Regions from separate parts of the Homo sapiens genome. Here region 1 is linked to region 2. Evidence: fine-mapped expression QTL. A gene starts in region 2. The other region holds a variant in brackets. All regions are shown on one strand. Distances are between the middles of the regions.

The links. PIP is the estimated chance that this variant, and not a neighbour inherited with it, causes the effect.
Region 1: its variant is the best candidate, but not a certain one, in a credible set for the expression of ZC3H13 in sigmoid colon (GTEx, PIP 0.61).

Annotation. Positions count from the first base shown.
Region 1 is chr13:45,963,417-45,978,845 of GRCh38, forward strand. It overlaps ZC3H13 (zinc finger CCCH-type containing 13), which reads right to left. Exons shown (of 19, transcript NM_001330564.2): 12 at 11,867-12,422; 13 at 6,946-7,049; 14 at 5,332-6,555; 15 at 4,088-4,612; 16 at 1,864-2,016; 17 at 426-626. Among named protein-coding and RNA genes, the nearest start is that of ZC3H13, 82 kb to the right of the region's middle. The variant T/C (reference allele first, on the strand shown) is at 8,632.
Region 2 is chr13:46,041,998-46,057,281 of GRCh38, forward strand. ZC3H13 (zinc finger CCCH-type containing 13) reads right to left here and starts at 10,749. Exons shown (of 19, transcript NM_001330564.2): 1 at 10,407-10,749; 2 at 3,394-3,519; 3 at 2,958-3,067; 4 at 167-278. The coding sequence starts at 3,510. It overlaps CPB2 (carboxypeptidase B2), which reads right to left. Exons shown (of 11, transcript NM_001872.5): 10 at 13,765-13,852; 11 at 11,189-11,801. The coding sequence ends at 11,617. CPB2-AS1 (CPB2 antisense RNA 1) reads left to right here and starts at 10,851. Exons shown (of 3, transcript NR_046227.1): 1 at 10,851-10,968. RefSeq lists enhancers at 9,933-10,469, 10,470-11,005, 10,535-10,704, 10,715-10,914.

The DNA of each region.
Region 1 (15,429 bases), 79 kb before region 2:
GGTTAATTTGTTTTTTTTTTTTTGAGACAGGGTCTTGCTCTGTCACCTAGGTTGGAGTGTGGTGGCTCAATCATGGCTCACTGCAGCCTCAATTTCCTGGGCTCCAGCAATCCTGCTGCCTCAACCTCCCTGAGTAGCTGTGACTACAGACATGCAACACCACGCCTGGCCTGTTAATAAGTAATTTTCATACAAAAAGGTCATTGTACTCTTTTCCCAACTTTTCTGTGGGATAACTCTTCTTCTCAAAATAAATTTTAAAGAGAAACTTTGACCATGAGGGTTAAATAATGATTATAAAATGATTTCTCAAAAAATAGTTTCTACACAGTGTTAAGTGCTACATAAGAACAGATCAGAATCCCCTTCAGATGGCATCTTAAATGGTTAACAGACATTATATAGTTAAAGTAAAATGAAACTACCTTTGGGTTTTTCTAAAAGTCTCTGACATGTTTCTTTGACTTTGGCAAAGAGTTCAGAACCTGCCAACTTTTTAGAAATCCCAACTCTTAGCATAACAGCTCCAGGTGTGAATTTTAAGAGTGCAGCCCCAGGCTCTCGTGGTTCTTTTGGATGCTTTGGCATAAGACCAGACCAATCCACATCTATCACATCTAAGGGATCTGTAAAAAGTTAAAAAGTAAGATTTGTTTTACACCAAGAAATAGCAGTCTTGTTATCTACATAGACATTTACATAAATCAAGGAGAAAACAGAAAAAATGAAAAGTACTTTAAACCAAAAATGTCCTATTCTTAAAATAAAAGCCTTCCCATATAATACTCAGAATCTAAGGACTCTGACAAATAAAAAACCTTCCCACCAAAAGAAAACAGGTAACCCAACCCACCCATACAAATAACTCATTTTAACTCCATGGGAGATCCCCAATGAAAGAACTCTATTGATTTCACTCAGATTGGGTCTGATCTTTTGAAACTTGGTACCAGAATCCTTTTAAGGGTTAAATCTAGGAGTACATGTGTTTGCAGTGTGTGCACACATACATTTTAATTTTTAAAAACAACTATTTCATTATGAAATCCCTTTAAGAGTCAGAGAGTGACAATTATTAACACTGAGAGCAAATAATCCATCCACTGCGAAGGAACAGTTGAAGAAATAATGTTCTACTTAGAAATACCTGATACCAGAAAATAACAAAGATAACAATCATACATACCTTCTACATCAGTAGAAAAAATTGCAAAATATAAGAGCAAATTAAAATAAAAATTTCATATTTTATATAATCAAAGAAAAGATCCTCACTGTGATTTAAAAAAGTTGTTAGTAACAATCAGACACTAATTGGAATGATTCAAGAGGAATATTAAGGGGTGTTGCTTCATGGTATAATCACTGGAATGAGTTCCAGCAACACACAAAGTACTGTAAGTCAAAATAATTACCAAATTTAGAAAATTGATAGAGGTATATAGTGTTCAAATATAATTTCAACTACTGTAAATTTTTGACAGGTTGTTTAAAAAGTTGGCTTGTGTCACCACAGTTGTGAAGCTTTGTACCATATAACTACCATGTAGAAAGAACATTGCTAGACAATCAGTATTTGTTTAGATTCCAAGTCATATAATATGATTCTTAAATTCTGGAAAATAAACTTTAGAATTTTGCTATTTTAAATGAGGCCCTTTCTAATTCATAGACAATGCCTACTTAAAAAGGAGTAGGCATATAGGCTATAATTTTCATTTTATTGGCCTTTCAACCTTAAGTAAAATGTAAAAGGAAAAATTCTAAGTGTCTTAGGTCAATTTTTACAGAGTAGAAGGTAATAATACTTTAATATCATATAACAGATAATTTTCATGTTTAACCACCTCTGCAAATAGTTACCTGGCATCTTCTCCTCATCCTGTTGGTCCTCCCTCTTTTCTGCATCACCTGCCAGAATTTCATCTAGTTCGTCATCACTGATTGGCTCGTATCCTTCTCCAGCACCAGAGCCTAATGAATGTGCATCATCTAACTTGGACTCGTCATCTCCTGCTAAATAGACAAATTAATTTCAGATCAAAGACAACATTAAAGGGAGAGGATGACTAAGTCAAACCAAAAGGTAGAGGGTACACACATTATAACAATGTGAAAAACATCTTTTCATCAGAAAACTGTATCTCTTAATTATTCAAATACTTGATAATATCAAAAGAAAACAAAAATAAAATTTAATTAGTTAAATTAAACTTTAATAGCAAGAATACAATCTGGACAGCAATTATGAGAACAGCTTATAAGATCACAATAAAAATATGACAAATAAAAGCTACTACTAACATACTAATGTTGACTGTGTATTATTTTTGATAATTTAAAACTTTAAAACTCAGACAAATCTAACTTCAAAAGATTTTGAAGTTATATTTTCAAATTTTCACAATTTATCTAAACAAAGTAATTTAAAAACTTGCAAACATTTAAAAAATTTACTCGAAGCTTAAATCTTAGTTCATATTATTTAGCTCATTATATAAACTTTACAACAGTGAGGTAAAAATACAAGAAGTGTCTAATTCTCTCTCAACATCTCAATTCCTCCTCCCTATCTCAATGATCTTCTTGCATTGATGAACACAATTTTTAGAAAAATGCTTTAATACAATTAAAAATAACTTTGTTAGTTCCACTAGTGTATGTTCTATTTTTTTATTTTACCAACTTTTTTCAACCACCTATGCTAAACTTTGTCTCTTGGTGAGTTAGTTGTGAACTTAATCCTAAAATTACAGAATACACTTAACGTTTACAATCACTAGCTAACCATACATTTCACTGAATCTACAATACTAAGTTTCAAAATGTAACCATATGCTTTATGGGTATGAATTTGCAGCAAATAAAATATAAGAAGTTATGAGATGTTTCTAGTCATTCTAGTGATTTTCCATGTTATTAAATTCTATAATAATCTCCCCATATCCTCACTAAGTCACTTCTAATGTAACCAATTTTAGTAACTTTGTCATATAAACATACATCTAAACATAAATGCACATAATAGGATTTTCAACTTTTCAAGTTGATCCAACTCATTTTCCTACTTTGAGTAAAAACTTTACATCACATAGCAAGTGATTCACCTATACATTTCTATTCTATATTATCTGTGATCATAACCAGCAAATTATATATTTTAGAGATGAGGGATACTGACTCCAATCACAAGAGAGCTATTATAATGATTAATTCAATTATATTCAATTATATCCCAGGGTTGTACCTCCATCAGAACCATGCTTTATGATTTGATGCTATTTATACTCAAAATTGAGATGAAAATGTAATGTGAAGAGATGAATTTGAAACAGTAAGTGCCTCGAGCAGAGAAGGCTTCATCGAGAAAATAATGTATAAATTGGGACTTGAATTTTGAGTAAGAAAGATGAGATAAAAGAAAAAGGTCTATCAGGAAATGGTATGAGTGGGTACAAAGAAGGGCAGAGAATGGAAAGGCATGAGTCAGCTTGTCTAGTAAATGGGGGCTGAAGGGTAAAGAACAGAAGCATGGAGAGTGAGGTTTCACATAGCTGAGGCTGGCTCTGAGTTGATGCGGACTTAGCATTCCTATTCTAGGACTAGGGAGTACCAGTGGGATTCTAGTCAATCCTACATTAAATACAGTTTTAGGTAGTGTTATTGTTTCATATATTTGTTCTCAACTGCCCTAGAAAATAGGGATTCACTAATAATTATTTGAATCCCTCTCTGAACTAAGAAGTCATTTCAATTTTTGTAATCTTATTTTTTTAACATCTAAGAAAAGGATGTGATGGTTATTCTTCAACATCTATACACACTGCATCTAAACAATCTTTTATTTCATTTAGGTTTATGTGAACCAAATCTGCCTTAATGGTACTGCTAAGGGGACCACATTAAAAAAATATATATATCTCTATCTTACAGGCCTTTTCCTTCTGAAATCTACTTCCTCTATAGAAGAATGGAGAATGGAGTCAATTTGCCCATTAGTGGGTGCCCTTTCAAAAGAAAATAGTTGTTTCCCACGAAATCTGAAAAGAAATAAAGCAGTATCACAGACAACAGAGGTAGCACTCACCTTCCAGACTCTCAGTTCTCTCGGATTTATTTGTTTCTTCAAATCCCTGCACAGATCCCAGATCTTTATCCATTCTCTCTTTATCCAAGGCTAGAGAGTCTCGGGAAGTGCTTTCTAGATCCCTTTCATGTTCACCTTCCAGTTTTGCTTCACAGCGTTTCACAGACTCTATTTGAGAACTCTCAAAAGTTCTGTCTCTGTCTCTGTCCCTGTCCCTTTCAACAGAATCAGAAATTAGTCTCTCTCTTTCCCTATCCAAGTCTCTCCTTTTGTCTCGTTCTCTCTCTCGTTCTCGTTCTCGCAATCTATCTCGATCCCTGTTGCGTGGCCAATCTTTATCAGCATCTCGGTCCCATTCTCTCTGCCTCGTATCTCTCCTCTCTCTCTCGCGCTCTCTGTCGTGTTCATATCGATCTCGTTCTTGAAGCCTGTCTCTGCTATCAAATGACCCAGATCTTGAATGGACCTGTCGATCTGACTCTGGAGAACTTCTTCTTGAACTATGGCTTCTTGAATCCTGGCGATCTAAAATAAATATACCATATATAAAGAGTTATTAGCACATGATAAAATAGAAACAAAATGCTTCATTTCAAGGTCCTTTAAAACATAATTTACCTTTTTCCATATTCTATGTAACTTTCTATGTTCCATATTGTCTCTATATGTTCTATATATTTCTATATTCTACATATACATTTCTCTCTATAAATATCCAAATATATAAATCATTTTAAGAAAAATTCCTCTCTCAAAGTTCTAATAAATAAAAAAAAAAGTTTCCTTGTCTATTTCCACTATAACCATAAAATATCTTCCAAGAAGTACATAAAATGATTAGGCATTAATAGAACTAATCACTCCATTATTTGATCTCCTCCTACTCCCCTATCTTATTTTCTGTGGTCAAAAGAGGCAGCCTTGACTGCATGAAGAATAGCAGGAAGGTTAAAATCATAGGCATCAATAAGGGACTTGAACACATAAACCCTTCCACCAAGACATACTACTAAAATCCTGATATTAAACTGATTAACACTACTGTATGTATTTCTATTATAATGTTGGTATTAATGTGATAACAGGTAACATTTTGATAGGGCAGCTAAACTTTTCTTTAAAAAGTTGCATAAAATTTAAGGCAGCATGTAAAGTAACCAATTTAGCATTACTTTAGAATTAAAATGTGTATAAAATATACTAACCTAGGAAACAGTGACTAGATCACAATTCAATTTTATTACCTGAAGAAGTACTTCGACTGGGTTCTCCACGCTTTAACTGATCAATCCTAGATTTTCTCTCTCCTGTGATTTCCAGGCTTTTTGTTTTTTCTCTATCTCTTGAGCCACTGTGCAGTACTCTCTTTCGACCACTTTGGTCATCTCCACTTCGATGGGCTGAATCATTGGATGGGGAGCGAAGACGACCAGACGTATGACTACGGTTACTCCGATTGCTCCCGAGGCTGCTGCTCCTCTTTTGATCCATAGGCTTGCGATGCTGTGCATCTTCTATAGTCACGTGAGGCGTCTCTACTTTTTCTACTCGTGTTCTGTGGCATTTTCTGTGTGAGTCTTCATTGGCAAAAGTATTATTGGTGGTATTGGTGGGGGTGGCAGAGGTGGAAATAGTGATGGCAGATGTGCTGAAAGAGGTGGCGGCAGCAGCAGTAGTGGCAGCAAGAGTTGCAGGCACAGTTGTAGCAGTGGCAGTAGCCACAGGCGGTGGAGGAGGAAGAAGAGAAGATAGAGGAGAAGGGGTACTACCAGGAGTCGTGGCGGTGGCAGTATGCTCTGCTTCTGTCACCTCTGTACGGTCAGGGACATCCTCATCAGACCAGTCACTGAATGCTGTATCTTCTTTTTTCTGGGAGTCCTCTAGAATACCATTCTTACCATTGCACATTTCAACCAATTCCTCTTTAGTTGTTATAGGGGGAGTCCGTGGGCCTCTTTTCTTCTTACTTTGCTGGGCTGCTTCTTCATCAGAAATATCAGAATCACCTTTGGATTTTTTACGTTTTTTTTCAATGCTTTTCTTTTTCTGTCCTTTTTTTGGTGAAAATACTTGACCATCTTCAGATGTTGTCTCTATGTTACCCCTCTCTATTCCAACATCATCCTCTTTCTTTTTCTTAATTGGTTTCTTTTGAATTTTTGCTTTCTTCTTGTTTTCATCATGAGCTCGATCAGATGTCTCTCGATCTTCAGACTGGTGGTGTCCTATAATGTCCTGTGCACGCATTCTTGAGCTTTCCAGGATTTCTGTCTGTTCTCTCTGTTTATCTACAGAAGAAACTTTCTCCTTGAGTTCCTGTTCTTCGTAGCGCCTTGAACTCTCTTTCCTTTCTGGTTTACGATCCTCCTCTTTCCATCTACCCTGTCTGTCTTCTGTGAGGTGCGAGGGACTAAGAGAACGAGATTCTTGAGGTCGTACAACTTGGCTCAAGAGTCTGTGTTTTTCATCTATATAAAAGATAAAAGCAATCACACTCTCACCAGGTTAGTAACCACTGCATGGTACATATAGATTATAATAATTTCTCCTCACACCTGTAATCCCAGGACTTTGGGAGGCCGAGGCAGGTGGATCATGAGATCAAGAGATCAAGATCATTTAAAAACTTTTAAAATGACAATAATTTTAGTAAAAATAAAAATATGGCTTTACTATAAATAGTAGAAAATGACAGTACTCTAACACATACTTTAGTCACAAAAGGAGATATTTAGAGGCAGCAAAGCAAGACAACTTTTTAAAAATCTTAATTCATCAGTTCCTACTAGTATGAAAGGATGGTTTCATGGTTACAAATGAATATGAATATAGAGAGACAGAAAACAGAGTCTGCTTACTTTTATCATCTCCACTGTTGTAGGCATCACTGTCCGGAGAATGTTCACGCCGGCGCTTCGGGGACTGTCTAGGGCTGGGACTCCCTTCATTTCTATAGCGCTTCCTAAATTGGACAAGCAAACACAATTTATAAAATTCTAGGGGGCAAAAAAAGAGATTTTTTTGTTTTTACTAGTATCTCTTTACTATAACTGGAACATATAATTGTAGGAAAGCAATATTGCCAGAGTGTATCATACAAAGGATATTCAGTGTCTTTAATACAAATTCTTTACTTCATTTGCTAAGAATTGTGAACTTAAAATACACAACATTTCTTCTTCTTCTTCATTATACATGTAGAATAACTCAAGTGAAAATTGCCAGATTTAAATACTGTAAGGTGGTAACATGCAGCACAGAAACCAATATATTAATGTACCCTCTGATATAAACATTCAGCAATTTTGCATTCTTATGATATAAAAATGCCTTATGCTGCAGAGCTGAATGAGAAAACCTAATATTGGCTTTGAAGTAAAAAAGCTATGAGTTCAACTTATAACTACATTAGTTATTACGCAGCCTTAAGTAAGTTCCTTGAAGTCACTGAACCTTAGTTTCTCATCTGAAAATGGTGGGTGGGGCTGAATGGGTGGGAAATGAGAGTCCATTTCATAAAATTGCAGTAAGGAATAAATTAGTTATGTCATAAACCCAGTGCCAAATATGTTGTGGGTACACCATAAAATTAGTTCCTTTCCCCTTCATGGAAATCACTTTCTTGCTGACAAATTAATAAAATAATTCATACGTTCATTATATTTTTTGTTCCTTAGTTGAGCTTTAAATGAGTAGCGTTTTATATCTCTTGGGTACTTAAATTATTCTAGTGTTTTCCCCCATTTTCATTAAAATTTGACTACCTGTTTTTTCACTAACATTGTTTGTTTATAAATACTATGGTCAAAAGTTAAGAAACATATTGTATACATGGACCAATGGAACAGAATAGAAAACCCAGAAATAAAGCCAAATGATCTTCAGCAAAAGCATACAAAACATAACTGGGGAAAGGACACTCTATTTACTAAATGGTGGTGGGAAAATTGGCAAGTCACATGTAAAAGAATGAAACCGGATCCCTCTCAGCTCAAACAAAAATCAGCTCAAGAAGGATCAAAGACTTAAATCTAAAACCTGAAACCATTAAAATTCTAGAAATTAACACTGGGAAAACTCTTTTGGACACTGGCCTAGGCAAAGACTTCATGGCCAAGATTCTAAAAGCAAACGCAACGAAACCAAAAATAAATAAATGGAACCTAATTAAACTAAAAAGCTTCTGCACAGCAAAATAAATAACAAAGACAACCCATAGAATGGGAGAAAATGTTTGCAAACTATGTATCCAACAAAGGACTAGTATCCAGAATCTATAAGAAACTCAAATAAATCAGCAAGAAAAACATAAATAATCCCATCAAAAAGTGGATAAAGGACACGAATAGACATTTCTCAAAAGAAGACATACAAACAGCCAACAAACGTATGAAAAAATGCTCAAAATCACTAATCATCAGGGAAATACAAATTAAAAACCACAATGAGATGCCACCTTACTCCTACAAAAATGGCCATTAAAAAGTAAAAAAAACAGGAGATGTTAGCATAGACATGGTGAAAAGGGAATGCTTATTCACTGC[T/C]GGTGGGTATGTAAATAAGTACAACCTCTATGAAAAACAGTATGGAGAGTCCCTAAAGAACTAAAAGGAGATATTTGATCCAGCAATCCCACTACTGGGTATCTACCCAAAGGAAAAGAAGTCATTATATGAAAAAAAAAAACATGCACATATATGTTTATAGCAGCAAAATTCACAACTGTAAAGATATAGAACCAACCTAAGTGCCCATTGGCCAATGGGTGGATAAAGAAAATGTGGTATATATACACCATGAAACCATGGACTACTACTCAGCCATAAAAAGGAAAAAAATAATGTCTTTTGCAGCAACTTGTTCTCACCTGTAAGTGAGAGCTAAGCTATGAGTATGCAAAGGCATACAGAGTGATATAATGGGCTTTGGAGACTCAGAAGGGGGAGGGTGGAAGGGGAGTGAGGGATAAAAACGTACATGTTTGGTACAATGTGGACTACTCAGGTGACAGGTGCACTAAAATCTCTGAATTCATCCAGGTAACCAAAAACCTCTTGTACCCTAAAAGCTATTGAAATAAAAATAAAACAAAAACATACCAGCACATGTATATCATAGACAGCTCCTTTATATAGATGAACAACCATGTGGAGAAGGCCCCAGGTGTAATATGACAACTCACAGGCCCAAGCTTGTGTACTACTTTATCCAAAGCTCCTCTCCCATCAATAACTGGCCTATTTCCCCATTTTTCATATCTAATGACTTGCTATGACAAGAGAATGTGGTGAAAGTGACACTGTGCAAATGTGAAGAGGATTCAGGAGGCCTTGCTGCTTCAGCTTCTGCCCTCTTGTTGTTTCTACCATTACATGCAAAGCAGAGTTTAGACTACTGAAGGCCAGGGGGTCAAGTGGAGGAGAAACAAGATGCCCTAATTGCCAGACACATGAATGAGACAATCCTGGGCCTCCAGGCCCAGCTGCATTGTCAGATGTAATGTTGATACAGGAGTTACTCCAAGTGAGACCAACAGAACAACCACTCTATTGAGCCCAGGCAAAACTGCCAATCCACAGAATCATGAGCAAATAAATGGTTGTTGTTTTAAGCTACTAACTTATGTGGTGATGTGTTATATATCAAGAGATAACTGACAGACTGGAATAAAGTGAAAATTTAAAACATGAGAAAAAGTTATTTCAAGGAAATACCTAAATAAACACAATTAGAGTAAAATAAATACAGCAATTAGGCAAACGTTCTACATAAGAGCAGTTAAAAAAAGTGCTGGATAAATTGAACTACTGAGATGACAATACAGTTAATGAAAGATTAAGATATTAATCTCATGTAATTAGTTTCTGTTATAGAGTTATTCAACTTCTAAATTTCTGGGGTCATTGTCAACTCTTAGATTGTCTAACCATGAAAAACCAGAAAAACTTTTGCTATTATAAGCAGATATCAGAAGCATGAAAAAAATACAGGTTGCGTATCCCTTATCCATGAAATGCTTTAGGTTTTGAATATTTGCATTGTACTTACTGGTTGTGCATCCTTCATGTGAAAATCTGAAATGTTCCAATGAGCATTTCCTCTGAGTGCCATGTCAGTGTTTAAAAAACATTAGATTTTGGAGCATTTCAAATTCTGAATTTTTGGATTTGGGATGCTCAATCTGTACTAATGAAAGCAGAGGACTGAATAAAAGATAAATAACAAAGATTTCAGAATTTTAATCTTAGAAAATAAAGAGGTCAGAAAAGTAGCGGGTGGGGAGGGTGGGAATATGTACCTGTGCCTCCATGTGTTAAAAAAGGTATCTCTGAAGTTTATGTTCAGGTAAGATTTTTCAAAATGTAAGGAGAGGGAAGCAGGAAAGTAATCCAAGGAGTGTACTACAGAAAACCATGGCTGTAGATTAAAGAACAGCCAAGACCTAAGGGAAGAAAGTTCTACTTCTGTGCTGTGTTGTTTGGCCCTAACCATAATCCACAATAGTGAGGATGAAAAAAGCCTAAAGCAGGGACCCTGTATTCGCCCTGTGGCAAATGAGTTGGAGGTAAGAGCAAGAAAATTGAAGATACATAAATTATTTTCTCAGTATGTTTTGGCAAGGTAAACCACAGTGTTTATCCCAGTTGGAGGCAAAAAAGTAGTTAACTCTAGTAAGTTTGGTTTTGTGCCCACAGAACTTCAAAATTGACCAATCTGAGTCTAGAATTCTCATGAACACTGTGATCAGCTTAGTCAATAACTGTCTCCTCACCAACTAATGAGAGCCCCAACTCAGAGAGGACTGCTAAGCTGACAGGGACAACTCTGGGGCCATCTTAGCCATCATATGGAGAAAACCTTTCTGAGACTGAAATTAATACAGAGGGAAACTGGAGAGATGGAAACTGCTAATGCTTTGTTTGAGAATCTGGATATAGCCACATCAGAACAAGCAAAAGCTAATCTCCAACTTCCTAGATATTTGAGCAATAAGTTCTTTTCTGGTTAAAAGGGGGTGAGGTGGGAGAATGCCCTTAGGTATATCAGATGCCAAGAACACATTTTTTGACCCCAAAGAACTACTCCACAGCACAAGAGAAGACACTTCCTTTTCTCTCATCTTCGAACCATGCAGTGATTACAAGGATTCCCTCAGTTCCAAGACATTGTGAATGCTTCCTGTAGCCTGGGGGTAGTGACTCCATAATTACAAGCACATAAAAGTCATGAAGGATCATCAGAATGGCACAGGTGATATCCCTTGGTGACTAGTCTAGGGGATGTGATGGGATACAAGTTCACTGATTCCTGTCTTAATTTAAAAATTATTTTTTCTAGACAACTGAAAAAACTTTTTTTTTTTTTCCTGAGACAAGGTCTCGACCCAGGCTGGAGTGCAATGACATAATCTTGGCTCACTGCAACCTCTGCCTCTCAGGTTCAAACAATCCTCCCATCTCAGCCTCCCAAGTAGCTGGGATACAGGCACGTGCCACCACGTCCGGCTAATTTTTGTATTTTCTGTAGAGATGGAGTTTTGCCATGTTGCCCAGGCTGGTCTCAAACTCCTGGCCTGAAGGAATCTGCCTGCCTCGGCCTCCCAAAGTGCTGGGTAAAAAAACTTTAAACACCGATACATATACTAAATTTGAAAAACAGGAAAATATACAGAGAAAAAAAATTAACAGGAAATTAAGAGTATATTGAAAAGCATTAAATGAAACTTTGAATTCTTTCCTGAAATGTAAAATGTTATTAATAACTGATAATTATTCTTACTTTGATTTTCTTTCATCATGTCCATCTCTTGGATTCCTATCTTCTCGGATCTCTTCTCGCTTTTCTCTGCGGTCATCTCGTCCTTTGTCTTTGTCTTCCCAATCCCTTTGGCGTTCTCGTTCTTTATCCCTTTCTCTCGCTCTTTCTCGTTCCCGTTCTCGCTCTCGCTCTCTCTCCCGTTCTCGCTCTCTCTCCCTCTCTCTCTCTTCTCTTTCTCGTTCCCGTTCTTTTTCCCTGTCTCGTTCCCTCTCTCTTTCCCGCTCTCGATCGTGGTCTCGGTCTCTATCCCTTTCACGATCTCTCTCTTTTTCTCTTTCTCTCTCCCGTTCCCTAGCACGCTCTCTTTCTAGTTCTCTCTCTTTTTCTCTTTCCCGATCCCGTTCACGTTCCCTCTCTCTCTCCCGCTCCCTGTCTCGTTCTCGTTCCCGATCTCTCTCTCTAGCCCTTTCATCTCTCCTATCATCCACTCTGTCTACTCTTCGTTCCTCTCTTCTTTCATCACGCTCAAGCTCGTCATTCCTTCCCTGATGTCGAATTGGTGAGCTTGGTCTTTGATCTACAATGAAAATCAAGTTTTGTCAGTGATTAATTTGACAGATAACCTATTGGTAAGACAGCATGGTAAATCTTAAATTTTATCTGTGATAGGGTCACACTGGCAACAAATTACAAACCAAGTAGCATATTTAATTTTAACTTAATATCCAAGTAACAATCGCCCCTAGACCTTAAATTTTTTAAAGATAATTTTTATTTGCCCTCTAACGACCATGTTTCCTGCTCCCCGTCAACCCCCTTCCCCCCTCCCACTGATCAATCTTTGATCTTTCTCTGCATGCTCCCTACCCTACCTCCAGCCCACTGCTCCAACCCCACTTTCTGCCATCTCTACCCTTCACCTCTGATCTTCTCTGTCCCCCCAGCAGGACCTGAGAACACTGGTGGCAAAGGATAGGGGCAGCAGGAGGTGTAGAACATAGGAGCTGAAGGAAAAAAAAAATTTCCCTCGTAAGTCACACCTCTAATTTCAGGCCAAAATATATACACATCAAAGTGCAGCTATTATGTGAGGAAAATATAGTAGAACAAAACATATGTCAGAATTTGTTGCTGCAATATAACATGAACTGTAATATTAAGGGTACTGATGTCTAGCAATCTTGAAATAAATGTAAAAAGTGTTTCATATTAGTGATATATATTTGTAATTAATAACCAATTACTAATAAATTAGCTTTAATTACATAAATGATTACTCAGATGAAGAGCTGTTTTCTTAAAATGTTAACTGATAACCTCATCACATTTTATATAAATTTTTTCCATGTACACACAAATCACATAAACACAGAGTAAATGAATGCATGCTGCCCAAATACCCAGTTGAGCAGAAAATTAGTCTGGGATAAAAAAACGTTTAAGAGGATGGCATGAACTTTTTCAAAGAGACAGCCATTTTTGAAAGCAACTACTGCGGTCTGATCTAGGATACTGTGATGTTTCCATTTACATACTATATATCTACTGGTTTTTGATAAAGATCATATTATAATCAGGCCAACAGGTTGGTAAGTGGAACATCTAACATCAACTCATTAAGCAGAACAATTTTAGGATGTTTCTAGGAAGGGTTCAATACAGTATTCTGGATTTCCCTTCCTAATCACTGATTGAAAAGACAAGAATTATCTTATCTTTACTATTTTAGAGGTTATAGACCCAGATACAAATGATCATAGCATTTTAAAGCTGAATCAAAATGAAATCCTACACAGTTGCTTCTCCCCCTTTCTATTTAAAAACAGAAATTATGGTCCAGAGTTGTCTTCCCAATGTCACAGAGATGGTAGATGCATTAGAAGTCAGTTTTCTTAAACCCTTTCACTTTTGCTGAAACCAACTTAAAGTGGTTCTTCTGTACCATACTTTGGATTCCTAGAATGCTATCTACCCATCTTTTGTATTGTCTGAATTCCTGGTTTGGAGGAGTCATACCAACATCATAATCATTACAAGATAACCTGAAACAAATTCAATACCATTAACTTATAGCAAATCATACTTTAAATTTCTAATTACAGCAATATCAGCAAATAGACTATTCAGACATGCTTTTATGGGAGATGTATTTTCCCAACCAAAATATCAATGCTACTTTCTTCAAAGGAAAATGGAAAGAATATAAGAACATCACTTTAAAATGTCTAAATTATCTTCCCCTATCTTTCCCCCAAAATGTGTTATTCAAAGATGTGCTTCTACTTACATATTTCCTTATTTTAATAAATGACATACCAATTCATTAAAGCTGACAATCTCTGGGTTGTCTAAGCCTCATCATATCCAAGTACAATCAACTTCACTTCTAAAATATTTCTTTGTTCCTTTTCCTGTCCCCATAGCTATAGTTATTAACTCAGACCTTGATCAGGTCTTCTTAGATGCCTATGTCATCAACAGTCTAACTAATTGGTATCCTTGTTTTCAATCTTTCCCAACACCCTTAATATGTTTTTGATGAAAATTATTTCTTCCAACTGTTTAAAAGTAGTTATCTTGTAGGCAGTGAAAGGCAATTAAAATCAAATTTTTTAGCCTGACTAGGCTAAACTTAGGTCATTTACTACCTGGCCTATAGTCTTTCATCAGTCCTTTTCCCTGGTTTCTTTTCTACCTTGCCAATTATAGCATACTCTGACTCCAATCTCATAATTCCTTACTACTCCAAAGCACATGTTTCTTTCAGTTCTGGTGTCTGTACATGCTGCACCCTCTCCCTGTAAAGTGCTCCTTCTATAGTTTCCTTTTATTCTTCAGGCCCTAATTCAGATGTCACTTCTTTAGGCAGCTTTCTTGGAATTGCTCAGAATTGTGTTTGCTCCTTTGTCTTCTCACAGAACTTTTATATACAGTAGTAGCATTTTATCACACTTTGTTTTTTTGGGTGGGGAGTTCTTCCCTCTCCCCATTAAATTCTACAAGGACAAGAAATTATTGTACCTCAAGTGCCTAGCAAAGTGCCTGACATGGGTACTCAACAAATATTTGTAAAATATTCATTAGCCTCCAAAATATATTTTTATTTCAATCATACATCTCATAATTATTGAAGTAGTTACAGTAAAATTAAAATAGAGAACTGAACTTCTGGTCAGAAGACCTGAGTTTGAATTCCAGCTCTGGAACCTACTTCTCTATAATATTGTAATCTTACTACTCTTAGATCTAATCCCCAAAACTGTGAAAACATGAATTATTTTATCATACCTACACTTACAAGGATATTGTAAAGACTAAGTCAGAATATATGTAAAGCAACTATCAAAGTTCTTGGCACCTAGTAGAAGATCAATACATGTGGTTGAACTAACCATAAGATTGAAACCAAATGTTACTATTGAATTCAGGCATGAGATGAGAAAAATCTGAGCAAGGATATGAAAATAGAAAAAAAGGAAAAAAGAAATTTAAAAAAAAGCATCACCAGTTCTAAAAGTCCCAGGGAAGAAAAAATTTCAGATATCAACACAGAACATAGAAACTCCAGCCCTATCTGTAACTAA
Region 2 (15,284 bases):
CAGTTTTCCCAGGGGACTCTTTCCCTCTAAATTACATTATCCATATAGAACATTATAATGCCGTATTACACATTTACCATATATTTAGCACACAATATTTAAAATGAAACTCAAATTAACAAATCACTACTGAAGTTGAACTTTGTTTTGGGAAATTCAATCCTACCCTAACAGGTGAGGATGACTCCTCTGTATTTCGTTTCTGGGGCTCAGTGTCCACGTCTTGGCGCTTGTTCTTCATTCTTTCTCTAAGATCCCCTGTAGGTCTTTCTGGTGACCTTTGAACCAAAACACAGAAACAAAACAAAAAACGAAACAAAACAACAAAAATCTGTATTTATATATTAATAACATTTTATAAGAATGTATTTACAGAAATAACCTCACAAATCTCAATACACTTTTTCTAACTGACCTTGACTCCTGAATTTCTGAAAAATTTCACCTTAAATATTAATATGCAAAACACGAGCAACACTTACAGTTTTTCTCCCAATAACAATCAAAATGTATATGTTAAATTCCACGAAGTGGCAGGTACTGGTGATGTGAATAAGAAATTATATGTGAACTGAGAAAAAGGAACTAATAGCTTGACTTGTTTTCCTATTAATCACATAAATATATTAGTTATATGTGGGAGCAAAATGTAGTAGTAACACAAAGTTTTAAACTACAAAGTTGCAAAATTAATCTAGAGGTAGCAGCATTATCATTTATACTGAAAGATATAAGAAGATATTACAAGAAATAAGTTTCTTGTATACACATGCCTGTGGTTGGATGCAACATCAATAACTGAGAAAATATTTTATGTACCTTAAGTAAGAATCAAAGCAAATATAGGAGCTTTAAAATTTATCTTAAATTTTAAATTATTTCAGAATAAAGATAAAGGATTCAAGGCAATTTTACAACAGTGATTTTCATATTCTGCTGTAAATTTTTTAACTAAAGGAAAAATACATATTTATACTCAACAGTGGTAAGGCTTTATTATTTATACTAGAAATTTGACAGTATATGGCTATGCAATTATTTTCACTATCAGTGGGAAAAAACAAAGGAGAGATGGAAAACAGACTGCCTTTAAAGACTATTTCTACAACACCTTTAAAACAGGGCAAAAGAAGTTAAGGAATGCTCTGTTCCTCTTTGACTACCAAAAAGTACTATATATAAAAAAGATATAAACAAATCACATAAATATTCACATCTATTTCAAGCAGTCATTGGGCAATCAAATCAGTTCCTTGATTTTATGAATATAAATCATAAGGTTAGTAAAGAAATAATTTGAGTTAATTCACTTTAAAGGATCTCATTAATGTTTACATGCACATGTAATAGATTTATATTAAATGTTTTAACAGTTAAAGCTAAACTTGAAACTGGAATCTCTTACTAAGAACCAGTACTTAAGTGCTCTAAATTATAATGATGTACATGTAAATCCTATGTGCCCTGGTTTCCTTTATATAATAAAACACTTTAGTATGAACTTGTTTCTATCCTAAACAGCACCCAACAGAATGAATGTTTTACACACAGCGAATTCTCAATTAATTATGTAAAAGTCTTGTATATAAACATATAAATAAGCATTCTGTAAAATACATTGCTTTTCTTATCTTTGACTCGCATTATGAACTATGTTTTTCCTCCCGACAAAAAAAATGCACAAATACGAAAGAAGTTATCAGATGGAAAATCATACACAAAATAGCAAAATTATAATAAATATTCTTTATTCTAAGTCTAGCAATGACATTACTTTTTCCCATTTTAGACAAATTTCTCTGACCATTTTTCTCAAAATGATTTCTTGAATAAAAATTCTGAGTCAGCTAATAAATTTCAAAGATAAATTTTAAAATGTATCAAAAGTATAGTATTAAAGCAAAACATTAAAAGTATCGAAATAGTTTCACCAGGTATGTATCTACGTGTATATATACAAGTAAACACACATATACAATAAACACTAATCTTCCCACATTAACGGAAGTGACAAATGACAATCTAAATACAAATAAAACAGTATTCAGAATCACAAATAAACTAAAATGTACAATGTTTACGTGAAAAAGAAGTTGGCTAATGTTGAGGGTTTGAATTTTAAATTCTCCTAAACAAAATCTACCCATACACTACCCCCAAAAAAATCATTCAACTAAAAAAAAAAAAAAAAAATTCCAATTGCTAATGTTCAGTTTTTATAGTGTTGCTATGCTATAGCCAAAACAATCAGTGTAACCAATTTTGGATCTAGGTAAATTATTTCTTTACCAATCAAGTTAAAACTGTTTTTGTGACAAACTTTATGTATATTACATCTTTAAATACCATAAAATAATCATCATGAGGGAACCAAAAGAAAAATAAAAGGTCTTTATTAAGCAAGTTTAATCTAGCCAAGCCTTTATTAAAGGCAAAACGATGTTCGAAATATGGAGCATATTCATCCACATATAAATACATATTTTCATTAACATACTGTGCTAAGGGATTTGGCAAATGCATTTTAACCTATAGAATTTGTACAAAATTTGAATTCAGAACATCTTAAACAGCTAAAATTATACCCTATTTGAATTTTACTATTTTAAGAGTTAAAAATAGCCTCACTAAAAAGAAATTCAGACACCATGGAATTCTGCTGTCTTAAGCAGCAATTTAATACATAATTAGGGGGGAAAAAGTAAGCCATACACATACTACAAAAAGATCTACTGTCAAAACAAATAAATAATGAACAAATAAGTTAATTTGAAAGCAAACATTTTATTAATCTTGAAAATAACAAAAAGATCCTGTCGATCTTCAATTACTGGTAAGACTACCACCAATATAGAAAATCTGACCAAATATATGGTTGTATTTCAGATTTTTATACTAGATAAATTACAAAAGCCATCTTCTAATAGTACATGAACAATACAAAGTTCTCAGTTTACCTTCTATAATTGCTGCTATAACCTTTACCACGAGGTGAAGGGCCATGTACGAATCTACATGTGTTTCCATAGAGGCAGTTGCCAGTCTTCAGCCAGTTACGGCACTGTGTCTAAGAGACAGATATTACTATGTAAATTTCATATTTATTTCTGGAAAAAAAAAATGCTAGCGGGACAAAATTAAAACAAATGCTACCAAAATTCCAGCTAACCTGTGATATATTACTCCCCAAATAATAAAAACTTCAGGAAAAAAATATGGAAAAACCCATAAACCTTATCACCCTTTTCACTTCTTTTTATAAAACACACTTTAAAAAATTTACTGAACAAACATTCCTACAATAAAACAACCTGTTCACCTTTATGATACAAATAAGCATTTCAATAATAGAATTCTAAGAGAACCCCTGTGACTATACTAGTGACAACTCACCTCTGCTGTACTGCCAGTGCTGGGTCCAAGCCTCTCAAATACACTGGGTCTTCGGGATGTGCTATCAGATATAGTCTTGGTATTTTCCACTGTGACCTTCCTTCTAATTTTTGACATTTTGTACTACTTCAACCAAAAAAGAAAGAGGCAAAACTGTAAAATTCCTCAGTTTTAAATAACTGAGCCCACAGCTTACAAGTAGATAAAACTATAGGTAACAGTGTAAAATTACAGGAGATTTTCCTTGGGAGATTAAAAAAAAAAAGCATAGGAGAGGTCACAGGTAAACAGAGATAATATCTTCTAAAACATGCCTTACTGGTGAATTTATAACAGCTGTGAGATCTGTTGGCTAGAATTGTACCTCTTCTGCAGAGTGAACGAATATGATCCTACTCACACAGTGAAGTTTTCATAGTACAATCAACCTCAGAAGATACAGTACAAAATGTTTACTTTATAAAAGTTACTTACAAAAATTGCTTCAAAATTTAGTAACTCAAAGTTGTTAACCATCAACTGGTTAACTGAAAAAGAGTTATGCTAAAGAAAATGGAAAAATAAAATTGGGTGAAAATTTTCATAGCAGAAATTATGTTTCATAAGTTTAAGGGACAACAGCAGTTATGTTCCAAAAATCAGGTTGAGAAAAATGAATGATATTTTAGTATTTTCTTTGCCTGACAGAAGTCAAAACAATCTGATCAAGCATATTTATTTTCCAGTAACACAAAAACAAAACAAAACAAAACTCAATGTTGATAGAAACAACTTTCAAAACAGGACAGACTGTAGAACTAGAAAAAGTCGAGGTGTTTCTATAATCTATACTACACTGACATAAAATTCAAAGGTGTTAAAAGTAATTATCAGACTATTTTACCATTATTAGTAATAACAAAAAAGGCAAATTGTAAAAATATTTTTATTTTATTTTACGTTTAAGCTCTGTTAGATTTGATGTAAACATAAAAATATTTTTTAAGGGCCAGGCACAGTGGCTCGTGCCTGTAATCCCAGCACTTTGGGAGGCCGAGGCGGGCGGATCATGAGGTCAGGAGATCGAGACCATCCTGGCTAACATGGCAAAACTCCGTCTCTACTAAAAATACAAAAAAAAAAAAAAAATTAGCTGGGCATGGTGGCGGGCGCCTGTAGTCCCAGCTACTCTGGAGGCTGAGGCAGGAGAATAGCATGAACCCAGGAGGCAGAGCTTGCAGTGAGCCGAGATCACACCACCGCACTCCAGCCTGGGCGACAAAGCGAGACTCCATCTCAAAAAAAACAAAAAAACTCTCTCTATATATATATATGTATGTAAATAAAACATTCAAAAACTGAAACTATAGTAAAAATCTAATCCAATGACATAATTGGGTAATTCAACTAGATTTGCAAGTATCAGATAATGACAGTATATTATGACATTAGAAAACAATATTAAATTCTAGACCAAGATACAATCCAGAGCATACACTACTGTGGGAAGAGGGTAGAAACTGCCTCATAAGGGGAAGGAAAAAAAACACCATACTATATCCCGCTTTATACAAACTAAATATTAGTTGAAATCTTATCAATCATCAAAAGTTACTAGAATGAACCACAGCAGCTAAAAAAGTTTCATTTAGTCTCTATAAAGATCACAAATCTTTAATGTGGTTTCAAAGTAAAGACATATCACTTTAAAGGAAATTAAATCGTGGTAGTACCTAATTGAAACAGCAATAAAAAATTATAAACAGTGTTTGGTTCAATGAGGTACTTCAGGTCACACTTTTAAAAGAATCCAAAGACTAAGAACAACATTTGATAAATAAAAGATGGTGCATCAAGGAAGGAAAATATGAAATAATATATGGTGATTTTAAATTGGAAAATCTATATTTTTATCAATATAAAATGTAATAATTCTTTTGATATAATAGCAATTAATTTTTAGTGATTTTAAAAACAGAATTACTTCACAGTAATTATAAATTTAAGAACCAGTGGAGAGCATCACATAAACAATAATTTGCTGCAACACAAAATCAATTAAATATTAATTGTTCTCCAAGTAAGGAACTACACACCAATTCTACATACTGGTGTTAGCATTATAAGATAATCTTTGATTTAATTTTTCTTAGACTCATTCTCAGCTGAAATGTGAACATACGGAGGAGAAGCTGGTAAAATTTCCTATGTCTATTTGATTTACTGAGCACGAAAAAACTGAAAGCTAAGAGAAGTGGAGCTGAGAAAGATCTAGAAAATGTAGAGCTTTGAGAAAAACTTTTTTAACAATATATATCCAAGCATGATTCAATAATAAGTAAATGTATCACAATGTATAAGAAGTTTGAGAAAAACATAAAGTTTCATTATATATTGCTACATTAATATACAAATATAGAGTAATCCTCAACCAATAATTCAATTTTTAAAACATTTCTTAATAAACAAAATTGAATAGGTTCCAAAATTTCCTTATTTGCTAGTTATGTAGAACTTAGAAAACAGGCACAACCATCCCACCACACTGCCTCAAGTGGACTAACACTAATTTTTTATTTTTCCCTCCACTGTCACTGGAAATGAGTTAGTTCTGCCCCCAACATCTCTACTACCCCCAACATGCCTCCACTCCCAGCTCAGTCTCCTTCAAAAAATTCAATGGTAATGGTTTCCAGTTAGGACGACAGGCTATTTATTATCGTACTTATTATACTTAAAACATTGGTCATCTATCATCTCCTTTCTTTTTACTTTTTGAGGGTTCCAGGTATTAACTCTACAGTTTCTTTTTCTGGTCTGTCCTCTGTTGCCTGATTCGCACTACTCTCCTCCCTTGACCTATTGCTTTGCTGGTCTGAGAGCTTCTCTCCAATCCTAGACTCCCTAAGGCAAACTTTGAAGATTTCGCCGGGCGCGGTGGCTCACGCCTGTAATCCCAGCACTTTGGGAGGCCGAGGCGGGCGGATCACGAAGTCAGGAGATCGAGACCATGCTGGCTAACATGGTGAAACCCTGTCTCTACTAAAAATACAAAAACAAAATTAGCCGGGCGTGGTGGCAGGCGCCTGTAGTCCCAGCTACTCGGGAGGCTGAGGCGGGAGAATGGCGTGAACCCGGGAGGCGGAGCTTGCAGTGAGCCGAGATTGCGCCACTGCACTCCAGCCTGGGTGACAGAGTGAGACTCCGCCTCAAAAAAAAAAAAAAAAAAAAAAAAACTTTGAAGATTTCAAGGGTTGGACTTGCTATGAAAGACAATCAAGTGAAGACTAATGATCCACCTCCTCACCTCCCTCACCCTACGCCCATATTCTTTCCACAGAGACAAAATTGCTTTTACCAGTGACATCAAGAACTATTCAAGATTCACCTACATAGTAATTATCCCAGGAATTTCACTTGCAGCTACTACTGTACTGAGTCTCCCAATTTAGCGAAGAAATGAAATTAAGTAAAAATGTGGCCAAGCGCAGTGACTCACGCCTGTAATCCCAGCACTTTGGGAGGCCAAGGCAGGCGGATCACGAGGTCAAGAGATTGAGACCATCCTGGCCAACAGATCGAGACCATCCTGGCCAACATGGTGAAACCCCGTCTCTACTAAAAATACAAAAATTAGCTGGGTGTGGCGGTGCACGCCTGTAATCCCAGCTACTCGGGAAGCTGAGGCAGGAGAATCGCTTGAACCCGGGAGGTGGAGGTTGCAGTGAGCCGAGATCGCGCCACTGCACTCCAACCTGGCAACAGAGGGAGACTCCGTCTCAAAAAAAAAAAAAAAAAAGATGTACTCTACTTTTTCTCAGACTCCAAGAGTACCATACTTTGTCCTAAAGTAATACAGCATCTGAGTATGCGGTCTGGGTTACAGCAAGGTCCTGGACTGAACATTTAAAACAAGAATAATGACAACAATAATACACACACACATATTCTTAATAAAATGTTCTTTAATGTGATATATATATGTGTGTGTGTAAAACGTCTGGTGAAAAAAGAAAAAAGCAGAAACTGAAGATTTCTAACTGAAAAAATTCTTCTGATCATCCATGTAAAAACTTCCACAAGTAGTCAACAATAAAATGTTACTTAAATATTACTAATGAGACATTCATGAATTTGAATAAACAAAATGCTTCATGCTTGTAAAGAACACAATATATAACTTTAAAAATCCCATTTATCTAAAAATATACACACTATCTACAATACAGCAGAAAAACATTTCCTTTTTCATATATTAAAACTAAATGTTACCAACTAATGTGACAATTAGAATTTTCAATCCTATTTAAAACTTTGGGCCCGTAAAGGAAAATGAACACCACAACAGTTAAAATGTAGATTTTCGGGGCGGGAAACTTTTTCAAATTATGTATGAACAGGCTGAACATGACAAGTAAATGCTTCAAAGTATATGAGAAAAATTAGAAACCATAAGATAAAAATGTAAATACTAAAGTCTTTCCTATCATAGAGAATAGAAATCAAGGTCATACCAATAACTTACTAATTTACTCTTCTATGAAGGTTTTCCTCCATTTTTGTTTTCAAATTATTATTTGGTTTAAGTTGCCATCACACTTCCACCCACATCATCAAGTCTTTCTCAAACACGAGCATTATCAAAGACAGAGTGGCACTAGTGAAAGCCTATTTCGTTATTTTCCTATTTCTCCTCTCCATTTGCAGAGCAAATGAATATCTGAAGTCTTTATAATCTCTTTTCAATTAAAAAAGAAAATGGAAAAAGAAAAAGAAAATCCGGGACACAAAGTTTGAGTCTATTAATAAAGACACAACAAAAGAGGGTCTTAAATGGGAACTGCTCCCTTGCCCCGAGAAACTTAGAATAACACTGTACTCAGAAGGTTCACATTATAATTATGGCTGAGAAAGGAGAAGCATACAAAAGGGTCTCTTTTTGAATAATGACTCCAGAAGCTCAATTAATAAAATCTTGTCAATAAACACATATGCGTTCTAGTATCTTCACTTCAATCCATAATTAATTATCTTTTCCAGGTCTCATCTACTGGAAGCATAAGTGAAAGCATAACACTTTAATCCGGATGAGTAGCGGCATAATATTAGGGAAATTTCAAACAATTAGGCAATTAAAACTACATGAATGTACTAACTAGTAGGATAAATCCCTATACTCTGAATTTCTAAGATTAAAAAGGTGATACTAAAAATAAGGTATCTTCACATTTATACTTCATATTTTTAGAAAGAAAAATTAACTTTATTTGATGCATAGTTTGAGAGAATTTTTTAAAAAGAACTTTCTAAAACAAACTTTCAGATTGCTTCCGTAAATTTAATGCTAAAACAATTCCAAACTAAATTCCAAATACAACTGACAGAACTAAGCTGACTACATAGGAATTAGCAAAGCAACACTGCAGTACTATGCAGAAAAAACAATTTGTTAAAAAGACTGTGCACAGAAAACATCCCATGCTGGTAGCTACTCTAAAGTGAAGTAAAAAGAACTGCATCATACAAAAATACAAAAAAAAAAGAATAAAAGACTCTTTCTATATCAACAGCAGTTAATGCTTCAACTACTACTAACAGCTGGAGAAATAGCTCCACCTCTATATGAGATGGAGTTGGGAGAGATGAGGAGGTGAGGAAGACTATCATCCACTGAAAACCAACTCTCTAAGTAAATTTAAGTTAAACAATGTGTTTCCTCTATGTAAATGCCAATGCATATTATAAATACTGATGATATTACAATTTTAATAATTTGTAAAGATGTTAAGATACCATCCACTTGCTGGATTTTTAGTATGTTAAATTCATATTACAAATATGAAAATCACATAAGCTTGCAAATCTCAAAATATGCAATGTTCATTTAGAATGACCAGTAATCAGGAAGCCAGTAAGAGGCATACATTTGATAAAACTGAATCCTACCAGATGCACAGAGTGAAAGCCTTAGTTTCAGAGTGCAACTATTTTTAAAGCCGCAATTGTTACAAGCTTGCATCAACTTTGCTAGTCTCTAGTTGAAACTGTCATCTGTTATAATCTAAATAGTTCATTAAGAAAATAAAAATTATTTGAAAATCTATAGATTGTATTCACAAAACGCTCCAATATATTGTACTAAAGCCAGTAATTTCAAATGTTACAGAACTAGACCCCGCTAACTGGCACCATATACCCATAGACTGAACTGCATAAGTATTTATTCTCCAACGGTATCGCGGACTTCGAAAACTTGAGGTGTAAAGATGTTTTCCAAATTTTTAAAACTACTTTAAAAATCCAAAAATCTTAAGAGACTTCATACTCCCATAATTTTCAAAGTAGTTCGAATTACCTGAAAGCCCCATAGTATAACCAAATACCTTAAGACTACCCTTCACAAACAACATCTTACCAACATAATTCAAGTATTATCAACTCTAAATAATTTTCAAACCACATAAATTGCGTTAGCCTATTACAGAGAGATAATGCCGCCAAACAGACTCTCTTCTTTCTATTCCACTTTCCCCCGTTTCTGACAGTTGCCAAAACTACCTACCTAAGGCTTGTGAAGATAAAGTAGCACTCAATTCCCAGGACCTAAATCGTTATCACTGCTGAGGGAAAAAAAAAAAAACAAGACCAATCACAAGTAAGATGTTTTTCTCTAACAGATCTGGAATGAGTATAGAGGAAGATTCTAAATTTAAGCCCAAATTGCTGCACCCTTCCATCGCACACAAATACGAACACCATACAAGGGTTCCCGTGCTTACATCAAATGGTAACGAGGGGTACAGCCTATTGTCTGAGTCTACTTATCGCCCTTAGACAAATGCCAGAATCATAATCAGAGTGAGAAATTACGCCTGAGCACAGGGGGCTATTGCAGAGTTAAGGGTGGGATGCTCAAGGAAAGCTCAAAATCCCAGTGACTCAAGCAAAGACGGGGGGGGGTAACCCGGGCCTCCGCATTACGGGTCCGCTCAATGCCTTCCCCAGATACCCACACCAATTCACAGAACGCTTACTTCCTCCCCAAGCTCCCTTCGCAAGTGCAGTCCGGAGGCACCACCGCCGCCGCCGCTCCGAGGAGCGGGGGAGGCGACTCTGTCCCCGCGCCTGGACCCAGGAGGACGACGACGAGGAGAAAGCGATGCGCGCGCGGCTCCCGGGAACCGGCTCTTGGCTAGCGAGGAGCCCCCGGGATGGCTGAGAAGCAGAACCAACCCGCCCGCCGCCTCTCCAGGGTCAAGCGAAACTGGGTCGCAGGAAGAAAAATAACGAAGAGATTGTAGATTAAGAAAAGGCAACAAAAACACTACCAGGCCGCTAGGAGGACCGCCTCAAAATGCCGCCGGAAGTCAGAGGTTTGCCCTGTTCCTCTGTAGACCCAGGCAGCTTCCGGCCGTCAGATTAGTCGTCAGTGCGCAGACACCACCCTTCGTGGACACGCCCTCTAGGCGTAAGGTTCCATGCGAGCGGTAAGAGTGCGGCGGGACTTGGAAATCGAATCTGTGCTCTGTGAGAGATCCTAGGAAAGGAAACTGGGAGCCCGGGAGAACTAAAATTCCCAATTAAAAGTGAATTTAAGTGAGTTTTCTCTTTTTATTACATAATTCCTTACCATAAACAGCTGTTGTAAATGCGCAAAATGCGGCATTTGTTGACAGTACCTAGAGCCACTCATTCATTCGTTCAACAGTGTTTATTGAGCAGCTGAGCTGGAATGAGAGGCTATGTTTGTCGTTTTTGACACCCCTCCCCTTTCTGGGCCATCGCCTAATTACCGTGGAGCAAACGGAATGCATGGTTGTATTTCTAAAGGCACAAGCAGAAATTTATTGAAAATTTGGAGCAGAAATCTTTAATGTACTTCTGACCACCCTTCCTTTTGTTGAGTAGGATCCAATGATCAGCGTGAGATGATCATTGATTAAACTTGCTTGAGATGGCTAGTCAAACGTCGAAACTTGCTTGAGATGGCTAGTCAAACGTCGAAAATCAAAGAAAAAGTAGGTAACTAGACTTTTACAATTTTTTTTAAAGGGTAAAAAGACATGAACCCTAGTCTGCCTTAATGGCAAAGTAGCACTTATTAGGTTCTCTGACAGAACCAAGGAATAGGAAAATCTTTTATCAAAACTACGGATAAAACTTAAAAATAATTTGATACAATGATTTGGTCTTGCTGGAATCAGTAAATTAAAATACGGAAGCAGAATGATAAAATCAGGGGCATTAAACATTCCTAATGACATGCCAAGCTATTTTAGAGACAGCGGCAAAAGCTTCTCTACAGGTGGGTTTGATGTAACGCTCCGGCAGCAAGAATCCGTATGTGCCCGTATCTCGAAGTTCAATTGTAAACGAATATTTGATGCCCAAATCATAGATCCAATCGTCCCCACCTCCAGGAGCTAGGTCTAAAAGAAGAAGAAAGAAATTGTTGAAATACAGACGTTTCAAATTAATTTACAAACTGGGAATTGTTTGATTTAAATGTTTATTTGTTTGTATACCTTTAGATTTTTTTCAGTTTTTAACTAATATAAACAACTTTACAATGAGTACCCTTGTTTATACATAATTGCTTCTTTGTCTCTTTAGAATATTCTTCCCTAGAATAGATTTGCTAGTCTAAGGCTCTGTACTTTTTGCAATTACGGCATGTTCCCAAATGGACGTCAAAAGAACTGAATTCATTTATACTTCCACAAGCAGGGTATGAATTTGCCCATTTCCCCTTCCCATACCATCAATAGGAATTATGAATTCTGATAATTTTATGGGCGAAAAATAATATCCAACTGTCTTAATTTATGTTTTTTGATTATCAGTGAGTTGCACATTTGTTTGGCATATTTATTGGCTATCTTTATATTTCCTATCAATTGTCCTTCCTCATTTGTCTACTTGGTTCATTTTATCAATTGCTTATAAAAACGACATTAGTGTTATTAGCTTTGTTTGGCATGTAGACCTTTTTTTCTCCTTTCATTCATTTCTCCTTTCACAAGAATTTTTTCTCCTTACTGAGATTTCAACTTGGTTTATGCAGGGTTTTCATATGAAAATATATGCTGTACCTGGAATTTACTTTGGTGAAAGACATGTTAATAATCCAATTAATTTTTTTCTAGGTAACTTGTTAGGTTTTCCAACCGCATTAATTGAATAATCTGACTTTTTTTGGGGGGGTGCTAAATTGAGTCCAGGTTTATGGCAAAGTCTGACCCAAAATTTTAATTTATAATTTTAGCATCTATCTAATACAGTTTGGGAAGCATCTCATGAAAGCTACAATTGCCAGAAGACTTGTTACAGTTTAATGCATGTTAACTAAAATGTGTACATATTTTAGTGTTCATGATAAATACAGTTTCGACCTTTTTTGAGATGGAGTCTCACTCTGTCACCCAGGCTAGAGTGCAGTTGCACAATCTCAGCTCATTGCCACCCCCACCTCCCAGGTTCAAGTAATTCTTATGCATTAGCCAACCAAGTAGCTGGCATTACAGGCGCCTGCCACCATGCCCAGCTAATTTTTGTATTTTTAGTAGAGACAGGGTTTCACCATGTTGGCCAGTCTGGTCTCGAACTCCTGACCTCAAGTGATCCTCCTGCCTCAGCCTCCCAAAGTGCTGGTATTACAGGCATGAGCCACAGCACCTGGCCTCTTTTTGTTTTTTTCTAATCATTAAAAAAAAAAAAAAAAGGAAAAACCTGGATTTGGCCTTCAGGCTGTAGTTTTCTGATGCCTGGTTACAGGTTTATTTTATGCTCCTCTTTTCCCATCTCCCTTCAAACTTCAAAAGGGCAAAATCAGTCTGTCCTCCCACTGTGTGTAGATAGGAGTTACTCACTAAATATCTTTCAGCAAAAATTAATCAAAACTTTTTGTTAAGAGTTTGTCACAAGTTTTGTGTGTGTAATATATATTAAAGACAATCAACTGTAATGTGTTATGAGCTATACTCTTGGGAACAGGCTAACACTAAAAAACACTTGATGCAAATGGCATGCCCTAGATTAGTGTAGTGTACAACCTGCACAACCTTCCATGGTGGCCCTGGGAATCATGCAAAAGTTTTATGAACTTTTCTGCTTCACTCAACTAGTATGATGCCAATTCTGTAATTCCTACTTGATTGTGATAAATATGATTTCTTAAATAGGATTTTGGCTTCTTTTTAGTAACTCATTTATTAATATAGCTTTGTTCAGCATTGTCATAGCTATTATGCTTCTGTTCCTAATTATTACAATTCAGTTGTATTACATGTGACCCTATTTAATTCAGAAAAATTAAATACACAAAGAAAAACAGATCACACAGATTTCTTTAGTAGCTCAAAGTTCTCTAAGATCATAAGAAGAAATACTTACATAAGGTTTCTGAGCCATGGCCATGTGTATACCTGGTATTTTTACTAATTTTCTCAATAGCACGAACTGCTTCACTGGCTACTAGAGACTGGAAGCAACAAGATATAGAATTTCAGTTAATGTGCAGCTTTGAAACATGACAAGTAGAAGTTTCTAAAAAATAATCATACATTAATTGAATCAAAGTATACAGGTAGAAAATCTAGATTCATCTAAAAGGCAAATAAATAAGGTAAACAAATTAATTTAAAATATGTGCACTTTATGGCAATCACAATTGGGTGGCTTTAAACATAAACTATTTCAATATATTGAAATAATTTATATAAATAAATATATTAATTTGCAGAAAAAAATTATCACATGCCTTTTTGGGAACTCATTTATTATGGAAAATGAAGTATAACTACATCTCAAAGGCTTAGAGGTACTCCATTTCTGAACAAAATTATCACCAAACTTTAAATCCAACCTTTCTAAACACATACAAACACCTAATGCATGCATGACTCACTTCTTATCCTTCTCACAACTTCTATTTTCTTCTTGTGTAAAATGTCTAATGACTTCCATAGATTCATCAAATCAAAAAAGATTATGCCTCTGGTATGGAGCAGGATAATAACTAAGACCCCCATTTGACTTCATTTTGTCTGTTGATATTCATTTTGTCAAATCTATTCTGAAGTTCTCACTTATCTGGAACTTTTCGGAAATTGGAACTAGCATCATGGTATACACTGTCACCTTCTTGAAAAACTCAAGAGATTTATCAGCGGATATTATTTTATGCCATCTCATTGTTCAAAAAATAAGTTTTAATGTAACCCCATTGTCTACATAATGAAATACAAATTTATCTGACAGTCACACCCCTTCAGAAGCCAACCTAATCTACTTTCTGATGCTATCACCCTCCACTTTTGCATCCTCTTATGGTGAACACCAACTTCTTTGCTTGGAAGGTCCTTCCTTCCCTGTCTGCCTATAGAAATCCTCTTTCAATGCCTGTCTAAAATGTAGCTGATCTTTGACATCAACAGCACTTTATTATTTGTAGTTTTTCCCCCCCTTAATAGATTGTAAATTCCTCAAGGACAGTAACTACTTTATCTCCTCACTTATCTCAGCATTTCCCTCTGAATGCATTAGTGAAGCCATCCCTTGATATTCTAGTTAGAAGTGAGTTGTACTGTCTGTGCCACGTATTTAGTAGTTACTCTATGTCGCCTTAGAGTACAACTATTTGTAACATTTGCTAATGGTTGAGCTCCCTAACCATAACACATTCTCTTAAAGGGCAGGATTTTACCTAATGCTTCTTTAAACATCCATTGACAAGGTATTTTACACGTAATGGCTCTCAACATATATGTGTGCTGGCAGTGATGCAAAAAAAAAAAAGCATAATTAGACTAATTCTACTTCCCAAATCATGATAAATTTCCTTTTATTTCTTCAAAGATAATATTTTTGAAAGGTGCTTTCCTTAACAGTTTTCCCTTGAGAAGAAAAAAGCT